Homo sapiens: one gene and its partner. The protein of the gene in region 2 interacts with the protein of the main gene of each other region in a pairwise test. Each region holds a gene or a part of one and is shown on either strand. Other genes may lie near its edges.

Evidence for each region.
Region 1: the proteins of CPNE1 (region 2) and LHX6 interact in binary tests that used the Homo sapiens proteins (3 or more experiments, as listed by UniProt).

Annotation. Positions count from the first base shown.
Region 1 is NC_000009.12:122,204,958-122,211,986, reverse strand, and holds part of LHX6 (LIM/homeobox protein Lhx6), read left to right. Parts: exon of another isoform or gene 1-1,126; intron 1,127-2,269; coding exon 2,270-2,373; intron 2,374-7,029. UniProt on the Homo sapiens protein: Probable transcription factor required for the expression of a subset of genes involved in interneurons migration and development.
Region 2 is NC_000020.11:35,626,898-35,633,926, reverse strand, and holds part of CPNE1 (copine-1), read left to right. Parts: intron 1-1,003; coding exon 1,004-1,132; intron 1,133-1,230; coding exon 1,231-1,410; intron 1,411-1,541; coding exon 1,542-1,616; intron 1,617-1,692; coding exon 1,693-1,764; intron 1,765-1,901; coding exon 1,902-1,982; intron 1,983-2,149; coding exon 2,150-2,239; intron 2,240-2,348; coding exon 2,349-2,435; intron 2,436-2,572; coding exon 2,573-2,659; intron 2,660-2,753; coding exon 2,754-2,813; intron 2,814-2,892; coding exon 2,893-3,026; intron 3,027-3,131; coding exon 3,132-3,186; intron 3,187-3,436; coding exon 3,437-3,488; intron 3,489-6,513; coding exon 6,514-6,647; intron 6,648-7,029.

The sequences.
Region 1 (7,029 bases), on a different chromosome or scaffold from region 2:
TCCATTTCTGAACTATCTGCTCAATAGGAGCGACATTTTCCCCCTTTCTTTTCTAAACAATAACTATATTCAGGCTGCACAGAGCCTGTTAAAGGTGCCAAGGATCAGGGGCGCTATAAGTACCAGGGGTCTGAGCTACCTGCTAATACTTGGTGTAGAGTCAATAAGAAATCTAGATGATCCCTTTGGACTTGGGGCCATGACCTCCAGAGTCCCTGCCAGGACTCTGTCCATACACTCTGTTGACCAAACTTAGATCTGTCTTTGCTGCTTAGAGAAGAGGCTGAGGTGCCCTCTCCTCTTACCCTTGTGGTGGAACTCAGCTTGGGGAAGAAGAGGTTGGGGGTGTGTGCACCTGCACCTCCTGCTGCATGACTGACTGAGAGTCACCACAGCAGTTTGCTCTATGGTAAACTACAGTCATGGAGTTGTGAATTTTCTGAAGCCTTAAGCTGGGAAGCTAATGAAAGTGTTAGAACCAGACCCCAGAAAAATGAGTTTTTCTGTAGAGTTTGCTCTGCGGTTAACTAAAGTCACAGAATACTGAGTTTCCTGGAGGCTTCGAGCTTGGAATCTGATAAAAGCTTTGGAACCAGACCCCAGAAAAATGCAGATGTACATACATTTTCCAAGTAATCTGAAGTTGTATATGGACTCCTTGAACACCCCAGGTGAAGAACTCCCAATTTAATATAACTCCTTTATTCTACAAATGGGAGAACTGTGGCTCAGAAGGGCACAGTGAATTGTCCCGGTTTATATATCAGTTGTAAGTGTCTCTACAATGCCCTTTCCCTGTGACCAAAGAGAATGAAGCCTAAAGAAGAGACCAGCAATGGACTTCTCCGCTGTAGTGATAAACAGGCTGAAGCATGAGAAATTTGGATCCGACCCAAAGGTGGACTTTCCCCAACAGTTTTAGATGTTGGAATATGGTATAGAAATTCATTCAGCACATACTTAAGAGTACCTACTAAATGCCATGCCTCACTCTAGGTGCTGGAAATCCACAAAGATCTAGAATCTAGAAAACATACAAAAAATTCCTGCCCTCGTGGAGCTTTGCATTCTAGTTGGCAAAGACAGATAATATCAAATAAATAATAAAAATATGCAGTAAGTCAGGCTGGGCGTGGTGGCTCACACCTGTAATCCCAGCACTTTGGGAGGCCGAGGTGGGCAGATCACTTGAGGTCAGGAGTTCAGGACCAGCCTGGCCAATATGGTGAAACCCCCTCTATACCAAAAAATACAAAAATTAGCTGGGCATGATGGTACATGCCAGTAGTCCCAGCTACTCAGGAGGCTAAGGTGGGAGAATCACTTGAACCCAGGAGGCAGAGGTTGTACTGAGCAGAGATGATGCCGCTGCCCTCTAGCCTGGGTGACAGAGTGAGACCCTGTCTCAAACAAAAATGCAGTTAAGTCAGATGATAAGTGCTAAGGAAATAAAGCCGGGAGGAAGACAGGGAGGGTAGGAGATAGGTGTTGGTGTTGGTTGCAGTCGTAAAGAGAGAGGTGACATACGAGTACAGAGTCCTCTAAGAGGCATGGGTAAAGTCATGGTGATACCTAAGAGATATGAACTTACTGAGGGAGGGTCTGAATAGATGGGGCACAGCCTTGCTTGCAGGGCCTGAATAGGCAGGGTACAGACTTGCTTGCATGCGCATGAATATGAAAACACATATTTATTTAGGAGTGTTTATCAGTGAGCTAGATGGTTATACCTCACTCTCACGTAGCTCTTTATAAAGAGCATCACAATTGGCCGGGCACGGTGGCTCATGCCTGTAATCCCAGCACTTTGGGAGGCCGAGGCGGGCAGATCATGAGGTCAGGAGATCAAGACCGTCCTGGCTAACACGGTGAAACCCCATGAGGTCAGATCAAGACCATCCTGGCTAACACGGTGAAACCCCGTCTCTGCTAAAATACAAAAAATTAGCTGGGCGTGGTGGTGGGCACCTGTAGTCCCAGCTACTTGGGAGGCTGAGGCAGGAGAATGGCCTGAACCTGGGAGGCAGAGCTTGCAGTGAGCCAAGATCGTGCCACTGCACTCCAGCCTGGGCGACAAGGTGAGACTCCGTCTCAAAAAAAAAAAAAGATCATCACAACCAACCCTACTGAAACCTTGCCCAGGGCTACCCAGGAGGTAAGTGGCAGAGATGAAACTGGTTTCAGGGCTCCAGTCTGTAGAGAGCACGGGGCAGGTGGGATCCTGTGTGCAGCCTGGGGGATGAGCTCCAAGGCATCCTCTCGTCCACAGGTCAGGTACAGTGCGGGCAGGTGCACTGCCGGCTGCCTTACACCGCACCCCCCGTCCACCTCAAAGCCGATATGGATGGGCCGCTCTCCAACCGGGGTGAGAAGGTAAATGGAGCCAGGTTGGGTCTGGTGGGTCAGAGCCACCCTGCTGGGGATGGGTTTCTGGCAGCATCCTCTGTTAACCATTTGGTACCATGCTGCGCTGTGGCAGACCCTGTCTGCCCGGCCTGCTGAGACCCCCACCGCACCCCCACAGCAGTCACTGGAGCGGTGGTTGCTAGTGTGTTCTGTGTGCATGGCCACTCCGAAGGCCTCCTTGCAGCTCCCCACTGGCAGTTTGCCCTGCTCTGTCTTAGATTTGTGAATTTCCTTTACTCAAGCTTTAAGTTCCAGGGAGGGCTTATATCACTCATCACCCCACTTCCCATCATCTCACTGGTTTCTCCTTTTCATTCTTGTCTGTTGGGAGTGAATATCCTGAGCTGATGGGGTTCAGGGATAGCTGGCCAGCCAGTGACCTTGGTCAACTGGCAGGGCCTCCTCTGTGGAGCCAGGATTTCTGGTTGTCTCAGGCTTTAGGACTGCACTTCTAAAAGGGTGCTTAGCTGTCCCCATTCCAGGGCTTCAAGGTATTATTTCTGAAGCAATGCAACCCTTTGTTTAAACTTGTCCATAGTGCAGATGAAGGTGGATGGAGCTGCTCTGAAACCATGGAGAGAGGAGGAGACTTACCTCCCTCCCAGCTCCAAGACACCTCACAGTTAGCCTCGAAAGCCAGTGCTGTCAGACAACCCTTCATTTTAGAAATGGGAACGTTGAGGCCCAGATAGCTCAAAGTCAGAGATTGGATGAGAACCTTGCTTTTTTTTTTTTTTTTTTTTTTTAGACAGAGTTTCACTCTTATCGCCCAGGCTGGAGTGCAATGGCGCAATCTCGGCTCACTGCAACCTCCACCTCCTGGGTTCAGGTGATTCTCCTGCCTCAGCCTCCCGAAGTAGCTGGGATTACAGGCGCCTACCACCATGCCCAGCTAATTTTTTTGTATTTTTAGTAGAGATGGGGTTTCGCCACGTAGGCCAGGCTGGTCTTGAACTGCTGACCTCAGGTGATCCACCCGCCTCAGCCTCCCAAAGTGCTGGGATTACAGGCGTGAGCCACCGTGCCCGGCCGAACCTTACATTTTTTAATTCACTGACTTGTTTATTTGGAGACATTTCCTATGTCTTGTCTGTGCCCAGCATCCATGAATCTGTTGCTAGGAGTGGAAACAAGTAAAGTGTGGTCCCTACCCTTGAGGAGGCCAGAGTCTGGAGGGGGAGGCAGATCCCAACAGTTACAATACAGTGTGACAGGGGAAGCCATGGGAGCTGGGGAGGGGGAAGGGGGCAAAGGAGAGAGGCAGGGAAGACTTCCCAGAAGAGGCAACCTCTAAGGCCAGGCCTGAAAGCTGAGGCATCAGGGAAGGCATGAGACACCAGAGCTCTCAGGGAACCCTGAGCCATTCAGCATTGTTGGCAGGCATGTCTGGGAGGATGAGAGGAGGAAAGCGAGAGCCTTGAGGCTGCCAGGTGGAAGAGTCTGTATTTTATGCTGCGGCAGTGTGGGGTCCTGGAGGGCCTGCTGCAGAAACATCACTGTAGCAGTCTTCAGAGACTGCTGGGTTGGAGGACACCCAGTAGGAAGCAGGGATCCCTGGAGGTCAGTGGGTGTGGCAGTCCCTCGGAGGGAGAGGGTCAGAGCATTAGGGCTGGAGTCAGGAGCCCTCCAGTTCAGCAGATCCCGGTCTTGGTGTGCTCGGAATCACCTGGGCAGCTTGTAAATATACAGAGATTCCTAAGCCTCGCTCTCAGAGAGTCTGTTGGGGTGGGATATAGGGATCTGCGAGTGTAATACTCAGCCTGTGTGATTCTAACGGGCAGCCGGGGTGGGGACAGCTCCTTTAGGATGGTACCTCTGGCTCAGCCTCCTGATTGAGCTCAGTACACCTAGTATGTACTGAGCTCTCTGTGCCGGGCACCACAGGAGAATGTGTATGGTGTGGAGGTACAGACAGCCCTGGACAGATACATTTGTAAATAAATGGTAGTGCCTAACGTAAAATCCTGCAGAATCTGTAGTGAGTGAGCATGCCCCAGGAACACCATCGCCGCTGAGACTGTCACATCCATAGGAAGAGCTGCCGTTTGCTGAGCTCCTTCTGTTCAAGGCAGCTACTTCTCACATGGCATCTGGTTCACACCTCCCAGCCACTTTGTGGACATAGAGATGGCCTTCTCATTGTAAAGAGATAAACAGATTCCGAGAGGTGACATGACTTGTCCAGGGATGCAGCGAGTCTGTCGGACTCTGAAGTCTGCGCGGCTCAGTAATCACTTCCTTTTGTGCAGCACTTCATTGTGTACACAGCCCTCTCTCCGACCTCATCCTTCATAGTCTCCCTGGGAGGGTGATTGCGATGACCTCCATTTCACACTTGCAGAAACGGAGGCTCAGACAGAGCAGTGCTCATCCAGAATCACAATGTGAGCATGGGCAGAACTGGCCGGGATCCTAGAGCCACCTGCCTCAGAGCTGTCCCTTCCTGTGGGAGGGGATTCATCCTATTAGACCTGGCTCTGGGACTGCAGAAGTGAGCTGACATGATCCCTGCCCTCAGGGAGCTTGTGGCTTAGCACAGGGTGTGGGCAGTTACATTGCAGGGGAATGGGCAGCTGGAGTAGGCGAGAAACTTGACCTTAGAGGACCCAGAAGAGGAGGCAGTGAGCTCTAGGGGAGAGACAGGGGACAAGAAGAAGGGTGTTCCACATCAAGAGAACCGCATGTGCAAAGGCCCAGAGGCATGGAGGAGCTTGGGCCGGAGGGGACCCTGGGGGACGTTCAGTGTGGCTGAGGTCCAGGGAAGTGGGGAGAGCCGACAGGGGCCACAGAACAAAGGATCATGGAAAGAGGGTCTTGGACATTATGTGGAGGGCAGGGATGGGCCCTGGAGGTACAGAGGGCTGGGCTCAGTGCTTGGAGAGGAGCCTTTGCCTCCTGGTTGCTCAGCTAAGCTTGTGGTTCTGTCTCATTCAGCCTGGGGGATGAGCCATGCTGGGGGCTGTCAGATTTGGCTATAGACAGTTTCTGGCTTCTGGATTTGGCTGCTGAGCCAGAGTTTTCCCTTGCTGGGCTGTGTCCCCAACTTTGCACCCAGAAAGTCTGCATTAAAGTGTCTCTCCCTCCTTCATGACCTTCTGTCCTCTCACTGTCAGGCCTTTCCGCCAGCTCCTAGGGACTTTTCTTGTCCATAACTCTCAAATTCCTGGGGCTTGGTGGGCGGCAGGGTGTGGTATGTGTGTGGCCAGCACAGGATTGTCTGGGCTTTCTTCCAAGTCCTTCCAGGCCTGAGCCTGCCTAGCTGTGAGGAGACTCAGTGTCCCCATGGGGCTGGCCCCTGAACCCACTCATCTAGACCAGCACTGGCCTGGCCAGGAGAACAGTGCTCTGAGCACTCAGGGGAGCATCCCCTGCCTCCACCGCATCGTCATTTGGCCACACACACCTGTGAGGTTCCAGAGCCACATTTCTTCCTGGTTGTGTCCCCTGATCCCACAAATCCAACACTTGGAAAGTTCTTAGAAATCAGGGCTAAGCTGTCATTGATCAGTGGAGGAGACTGAGACCCATGGAGGGGAAGGGTCCTACCAGGGTCGCCACTCTTGAGAGAGCTTTTCCTAATAAGGGCTAAAAGCCAGGCATTCTGGAGGCCAAAGTGGAGCAGTGGCCAGGGTGGGGAAGGAATGCCCACCCTGGCCACTCTGGAGTTAGGCCAGCTCGGAATCCCAGCTCTGCCACCTCCCCTGTGAGATCTGGGAATGCAATTAGTTTCTCTGAGCTGCGGTTTCTACATCTGCAAACTGGGGATAATAATAGTTCCCACTCCGTAGGGTTGCTGCAGAGAATAAATGCATAATGTGTGTAAGGAGCCCAGCACAGAGCCTGGTGCACAGAAAATGCCCCCAGGTGTTGGTTATGATCATGATCACTATTATGGTGATCATCATCATTGCTTTCCTCCATCACCTCCTTGTGATAACCAGTTCTGGGCAAGTAACATTCCTGATCAGAAAAGGGAACAGCCATGTAGTCATGCCCACCAGATGCCCCTCACACTTTACTGTGAAATGACACATTGCCATTGACCAGCCAGCCAGTGATCCTTGACCTGAACTTCAGGGAACTGGCTGTGTCAGCAGCAGTGAGATGTCAACCAAGTGCTAGAGGTGGGAGTGGGAGGGGGAAAGGGACAGACAGTCCTGATCTCCCACTGTGTATCGGGCACCCAGTGTGTCTGAGCCACGCACTTCTAGGCTTCGTGCATGTGAAGATTAAGCGCATGTGAAGTGCTTAGCCCGTGGCCCTGTGGGTAATAAGCAGTCAGCCACTATGGTCACGGTGACCTTGGAAAGGTAGAGGCAATGTGCTTTGGTAGGGAGAGCTTGCTGTGAGCCAGGCCTGGCCTCCAGTGCCAGGTCCTCCTCCTCGCTGTGTGCCCACGAGCTCACTCGCTTCCACCTCTTTGAGCCTGAGTGCCCTCCTTGTAAAACAGAACGTTGGAACTCCCTCACGGGGCTATGGTGCGGCTTCCGTGAAATCAGGCACAGAAGGTGCAGGGTGAAATGCCCAGAAGGCTTTTGCTGCTGCTGTTGTATCTCATTGAATCTCTCTGATTCTCAGAGAGAGATTTTGTCATCCTTGTTTTAAAGATGAGGAAACAGGCTC
Region 2 (7,029 bases):
AGTACAGTGGCACAGTCTCGGCTCACTGCAACCTCCACCTCCTGGGTTCAAGCAATTCTCCTGCCTCAGCCTCCTGAGTAGCCAGGATTATAGGCACACGCCAACATGCCTGGCTAATTTTTGTATTTTTTTTTTTAGTAGAGACGGGGTTTCACCATGTTGGCCAGGCTGGTCTCAAACTCCTGACCTCAAGTGATCTGCCCACCTTGGCCTCCCAAAGTGCCAGGATTACAGGCATGAGCCACTGTGTCCGGCCTCACTTATGTTTTAATAGGATCGCCCTGATTGCTGTATTTAGAATAGCCTGTTGGGGTGGACATGGGGGAACGGAGGTGGAGACAGCATAGAATAAGGGAGACCAGTTGAAGAGGCTAATGCTGTAAGCCAGGTGACAAACAGTGATGGCTTAGATTGGGCAGCAGCAGTGGAAATAGTGAGGAGTTGAACATTAGCAGTAGAGGTGAGGAGAATTAGTAGGGGGATCATAACTCCACCACAAGAGTTAGATCCCCAGGGTTAGTGAGAAATTATTGGAAGAAGATAATTTGTGGAGGATATTATCTGGATCATAGTTATATTTGGGGTTATGTTAGGATCAGAACTTGGATTAGGGTCTGGCCTGGGGCCAGTAAGGGGGTCAGAAAGATTTATTGGTCTTTGCAAAGACCAAGATTAGAGTCTGGGTTTGGACAGCCCTATTGGGATTAAGACAAATTTTAGGGTGAGGATAGTTTGGGGTCACAGTTGTAGATGGAGGCTAGTACCCCTTTTCAATATCTTCAGACCAGGGTTGGTTGTATCTGCCATCTTCTGTGCCAGTGAGCTCACCTAGGGGTGGAGGGGTTTGGAGGCTATGAGGCCTTCTCTTCCTTGGGTGTCACGGGGGTGGACGTATGCTCAGCCCTGCCTGGGTGATGCCTGCTGGCCTTCCCAAGCTGGGACCTGTAGTCGGGGAAGGGGAGAGAAGGCTCCCTGGTGCTTGACCCAGCTCCTTTTCCCTCAGATGGCCCACTGCGTGACCTTGGTTCAGCTGTCCATTTCCTGTGACCATCTCATTGACAAGGACATCGGCTCCAAGTCTGACCCACTCTGCGTCCTTTTACAGGATGTGGGAGGGGGCAGCTGGGCTGAGGTGAGGCGGATTATGGAGGTTAAGGTTGTGGAGGGAGGCTAGGATTGTGTTTTGGGGTGGAGGCTGTGACTGTGATGCTTACTGGCCTCTGCCCACAGCTTGGCCGGACTGAACGGGTGCGGAACTGCTCAAGCCCTGAGTTCTCCAAGACTCTACAGCTTGAGTACCGCTTTGAGACAGTCCAGAAGCTACGCTTTGGAATCTATGACATAGACAACAAGACGCCAGAGCTGAGGGATGATGACTTCCTAGGGGGTGCTGAGTGTTCCCTAGGACAGGTATGTAGGGCTGGGGATTAGGATCCTTCAGATGCAGGTCTGTGAGACAACCTAGCCTGCCTGGAGGTAGGGGGCAAGCAGGACCTAACCCTGCCTGTTATCCTGAAACTCCCTTCCCTGCTTTTCCCCAGATTGTGTCCAGCCAGGTACTGACTCTCCCCTTGATGCTGAAGCCTGGAAAACCTGCTGGGCGGGGGACCATCACGGTAAGGAACCCAGCAAGGGTTGAGGAGGGACTTAACATCAATGAATTCATGAGGTGATGTAGTCTCCCCTACCTAGGTCTCAGCTCAGGAATTAAAGGACAATCGTGTAGTAACCATGGAGGTAGAGGCCAGAAACCTAGATAAGAAGGTGTGTCTGGAAGTAGGCCCTGGTAATCCAAGAGTTAAGGGGCCAAGGATGGTGTATGGGGGATGGGGGTGTGGACAGAGGGATGGCATAATGGTTGTTTGTTCCTGAGTCTTGTAACTGGGGTCTCGCATTGGCAGGACTTCCTGGGAAAATCAGATCCATTTCTGGAGTTCTTCCGCCAGGGTGATGGGAAATGGCACCTGGTGTACAGATCTGAGGTATGAGACCCCTGGGATTGGGTGGGCTGGGGTAGGAGATAATCTCCTGGGGCCTGTGACTAGCAAGGTTTGGAACTCAGAAAGAGACTGCAGGTGGGTAGAGAAGTGTGGCAGCTCCTCAGGGGGCCATGCCAGAGCTCACTGGAGGCCTTGGCCTCCACCTTCAGGTCATCAAGAACAACCTGAACCCTACATGGAAGCGTTTCTCAGTCCCCGTTCAGCATTTCTGTGGTGGGAACCCCAGCACACCCATCCAGGTGAGGAGCTTGCCCCCTAAGTGGACTGCGCTGGAGAAGAGAACCTGGGGAGGGACTTATTCTCATCTGCCACCTGGCTTGTTTATGTCCACACACACCTTTCCCTCAGGTGCAATGCTCCGATTATGACAGTGACGGGTCACATGATCTCATCGGTACCTTCCACACCAGCTTGGCCCAGCTGCAGGCAGTCCCGGTGAGTGCTGGTCTTGCCAGGGGTGTGGAAATGGGCCTAGATAGCTGAAGCTTGTGGGAGAGAGGAAGGAGAAGGCAGCTCGAGTCCTTGACTGATGCTCTGAGAATTTCCTACCCTAATTTTTCTGTCCTCACCAGGCTGAGTTTGAATGCATCCACCCTGAGAAGCAGCAGAAAAAGAAAAGCTACAAGAACTCTGGAACTATCCGTGTCAAGATTTGTCGGGTGAGACAAAAGCCCATGTAACCAAGGCTCTGATTCCTGAGCTCCATGACACCAACTGCTATCACCCCAGGCATGACCCTGGTTTCATTTGCAGGTAGAAACAGAGTACTCCTTTCTGGACTATGTGATGGGAGGCTGTCAGATCAACTTCACTGTAAGTTACTTTACCAAGGGCAAGAGAACAGGTCTGGGGCTCAGGGTGGCCTTTAGCTGCCTTCCTCACCTCCTCCCAGGTGGGCGTGGACTTCACTGGCTCCAATGGAGACCCCTCCTCACCTGACTCCCTACACTACCTGAGTCCAACAGGGGTCAATGAGTACCTGATGGCACTGTGGAGTGTGGGCAGCGTGGTTCAGGACTATGACTCGTGAGTACCTGCTTCTCTGGGCTATACCCGCTCCCTGCAGATGCTTCAGCCTCTGAGCTTACAGTCCCCTCACTGCCTTTTGCCCAATACACTGTCCTCCCACAGAGACAAGCTGTTCCCTGCATTTGGATTTGGGGCCCAGGTTCCCCCTGACTGGCAGGTGAGCTCCCTCTCTTTCTGCCACTCCTGTTTTCAGTTTCAGGGTCCTGATTTTGGGGGATGTGGTAAATTTACTTGCTACTTGGCACTCAGCTTTAAGAGGAGATGCAGGGTTGGATTCCTGCAGGCACGTAGACAGCAAGTGCTCAGGACTCCATAGCTCCTATAGGAATCTTGGCACACGCCAGTGTCCTTTTTCATTCTTAGCAGAGGTCATGGGGAAAGAACCTCATTTTCATTCTTGTCTCCAGGTCTCGCATGAATTTGCCTTGAATTTCAACCCCAGTAACCCCTACTGTGCAGGTAAGTTTCCCCATCCACCCTGAGGCAGGTCTGTCCACACAAAGAGGGGCAAGCCTGCATGAGTAAAAGGGAGAGTGGGGGCAGATACCTGCCTTCATTGTCCAGAGGGTGGATTTTATTTAATTTTAGTTTAATTTATTTTTTGAGAAAGAGTCTTGCTCTGTCACCCAGGCTGGAGTGCGGTGGCGCAATCTTAGCTCACTTGCAACCTCTGCCTACTGGGTTCGAGCAATTCTTCTGCCTCAGCCTCCCAAGTAGCTGGGACTACAGTCGCTTGCCACCGTGCCTGGCTAATTTTTGTATGTTTAGTAGAGACGGGGTTTTGCCATGTTGGCCAGGGTGGTCTCGAATTCCTGACCTCAGGTGATTGACCTGCCTTGGCCTCCCAAAGTGCTGGGATTACAGGTATTGAGCCACAGCGCCTGACCCAGAGGGTGGATTTTAGAGCTAGGCCTCTGGAATCAAATCGTCATGCCAGGCCAGGAGTGGTGGCTCACGCCCGTAATCCTAGCACTCAGTTGCGAGGCCAAGGTGGGTGGATCGCTTGAGCCCAGGAATTTGAGACTAGCTTGGGAAACATGGCAAAACCCCATCTCTACTAAAATTACAAAAATTAGCCGAGCATGATGGCAGGCGCCTGTAGTTCTAGCTACTCAGGAGGCTGAGGTGGGAGGATCACCTGAGCCCAGGAGGTTGAGGTTGTGGTGAGCCATGATCATGATCATGCCACTATACTCCAGCCTGGGTGATAGAGTGAGAACCTATCTCAAAAAAAAAAAAAAATGATGCCACATGACTTGGGGCAGGTTGCTTAATCTCTGTGTGCTTTGGTTTCATAAGACTAAACATAGGAAATTGAGTACTCAAGGAGAGGATACAAGTAAAGCAGTAAGCCTGGTACTTACTAAGTGTTCTCCGAAAAATGGTATCTGTTATATTATCGTTATTATCTTTGCCTAGAAGCTAACAGGTACTTACTTGAGCATCAGTGGAAGCCTTGTTTGCCTCCTTGCAGGGTGCATTTTGCCAGAGTCCACCAAGCCCTTTTGTTTAGGGCCAAACCTTTTGACTCCCCAGTACCCCCAAGGGGGCACAAGCTGAAGTGGAAAATCTGACCTGACCTGATCTGATCTGGGTTTTAAAATTTTAATTTTGTATTTCAACATAAGTTCAGACTTAGAGAAAAGTTGCAAGAATAGTCATAGGAGCTCAGTCCCTTGGAACTCAGGGGTCAGGGCCTGAGTTCACAGGGGCTCTTCACCTTTATCCCAATTACCCTAACATAACATTTTACCACATTTGTTTTCTCTTTTCTCATACATGTATACAGTGTGTATGTGTGTGTATATGTGTGTGTGTGTGTACACATGTATACATATACACACACATTCACACATTTCAAGGGAAAAAAGATTAAAAATATGTGTTTATGTATGTACACACATGTATACGTGTGTTGGAGAATGCTGTAGTGAATAGCCCTGCCTCAGGTTTGCTTCTATGGCCCTACCAGCTTTGTACCCATCATTATCCACCTGGCTTTTTACCTCTGAGTACTTCAGTATCTCCTAAAATCAAAGACTCTTTCTTACATTATCACAGACCAATCCTCAAAATCAGGAAATGAACATCTATGCTATTATCCAGCCTATAGCATTTATTCAGATGTTGCCAATTGTCCTAATGTCTTTTACAGCAAAAGAAAATCTCAGATCACACATTGCGTTCAGTTAGCACATATCTTTTTATATGGAAGACTTCTTGCCTTTCATGACATTCACATTTCATGATATAAACAGTATAGGCCAGATATTTTCTAGAATGTCCCTCAGTTTGGGTTTACCTGATAAATCCTCAGGATTAGATTCAGGTTGTACATTTTTGGCAGGAATACCACCAAAGTGATGCTGTATATTCTCAGTGCATCATATTCAGAGGAACATGATGTTGATTTGTCCTATTACCAGTCATGTTGACTTTGGTCACTTAGTTAAGGTAAGATCTACCAGGTTTCTCCACTATACAAGTACTATTTTCTCCTTTCTATTTAGTAAGTATATTCTGGGAAGAGACTATACAAATACTCATCACACACACATCAACATTCCCCTCTAGTTTTTTTTTTTTTAATTTATTTTTTATTTTTTATTTTTTGAGATGGAGTCTTGCTCTGTCACCCAGGCTGGAATGCGGTGGCGCGATCTTGGCTCACTGCAAGCTCCACCTCCTGGGTTCACGCCATTCTCCTGCCTCAGCCTCCCGAGTAGCTGGGACTACAGGCGCCCACCACCACGCCCGGCTAGTTTTTTTTTTGTATTTTTAGTAGAGACGGGGTTTCACTGTGTTAGCTGGGATGGTCTCAATCTCCTGACCTTGTGATCCGCCCGCCTCAGCCTCCCAAAGTGCTGGGATTACAGGCCTGAGCCACTGCGCCCGGCCTTAGTTTTTTTATTTTTTAAGTGACGGGGGTCTCACTATGTTGCCTAAGCTGGCCTTGAACCCCTGGGCTCAAGCAGTCCTCCCACCTCAGCCTCGTGAGTAGCTGGGACTACAGGCACATGCCACTGTGCCTGGCTATACTCTCTAGTTTTAACATCCATTGATGATCCTTGCCTGAATCAGTCATTTCTGTGATTGTCAAATGATTGTGTAATTCTTCCTTTTACATTTATTAGGAGCTTTCCCTTCTCCCTCAGTAATTAATCCATAGTACGGATCCTTATTGTATCAAATGGATCATTATTAAATAGGTTATAATCTGATGCTCAAACTCTCCTGGATTTGTCCAGGAGAATCCCTCTCATCTGGGTGCTAATTCAAGCTGTGATTTAGGGCAAGTCCCCTCCTCTCTTTGAACCTTAGTTTCCTCATGTGTAGGAGACAGTTAAGTACCCTGGTTTACAAGGGTGAATGAATGAAATGCACCCAGGTTCCGAGATCTCCTGGGCTGGGATGGGGTGATTTCAGGACTGGTGTAGTCCTGAGAGGTCCAGGATTTTACGGTATTTCTTGCTCTCCTCTGCAGGCATCCAGGGCATTGTGGATGCCTACCGCCAAGCCCTGCCCCAAGTTCGCCTCTATGGCCCTACCAACTTTGCACCCATCATCAACCATGTGGCCAGGTTTGCAGCCCAGGCTGCACATCAGGGGACTGCCTCGGTGAGAGTCGTGGGTGGCAGTGGCAGTGGTGGCAATCAAGGGCTTCCTTGAGGGTTATGGAACAAAGGACTTTTTTTTTTTTTTTTTTTTTTGAGATGGACTCTTGCTCTGTCACCCAGGCTGGAGTGCAGTGACGCGATCTCAGCTCACTGCAACCTGCACCTCCTGGGTTCAAGTGATTCTCCTGCCTCAGCCTTCCTAGTAGCTTGGATTACAGGCGTGTGCCACCATGCCCAGCTAATTTTTATATTTTTAGTAGAGACGGGCTTTCACCATGTTGGCTGGGGTGGTCACAAACTCCTGACCTCAAGTGATCCGCCTGCCTTAGCCTCCCAAAGTGCTGGGATTACAGGTGTGAGCCATCGCACCCGGCCTGTAACAA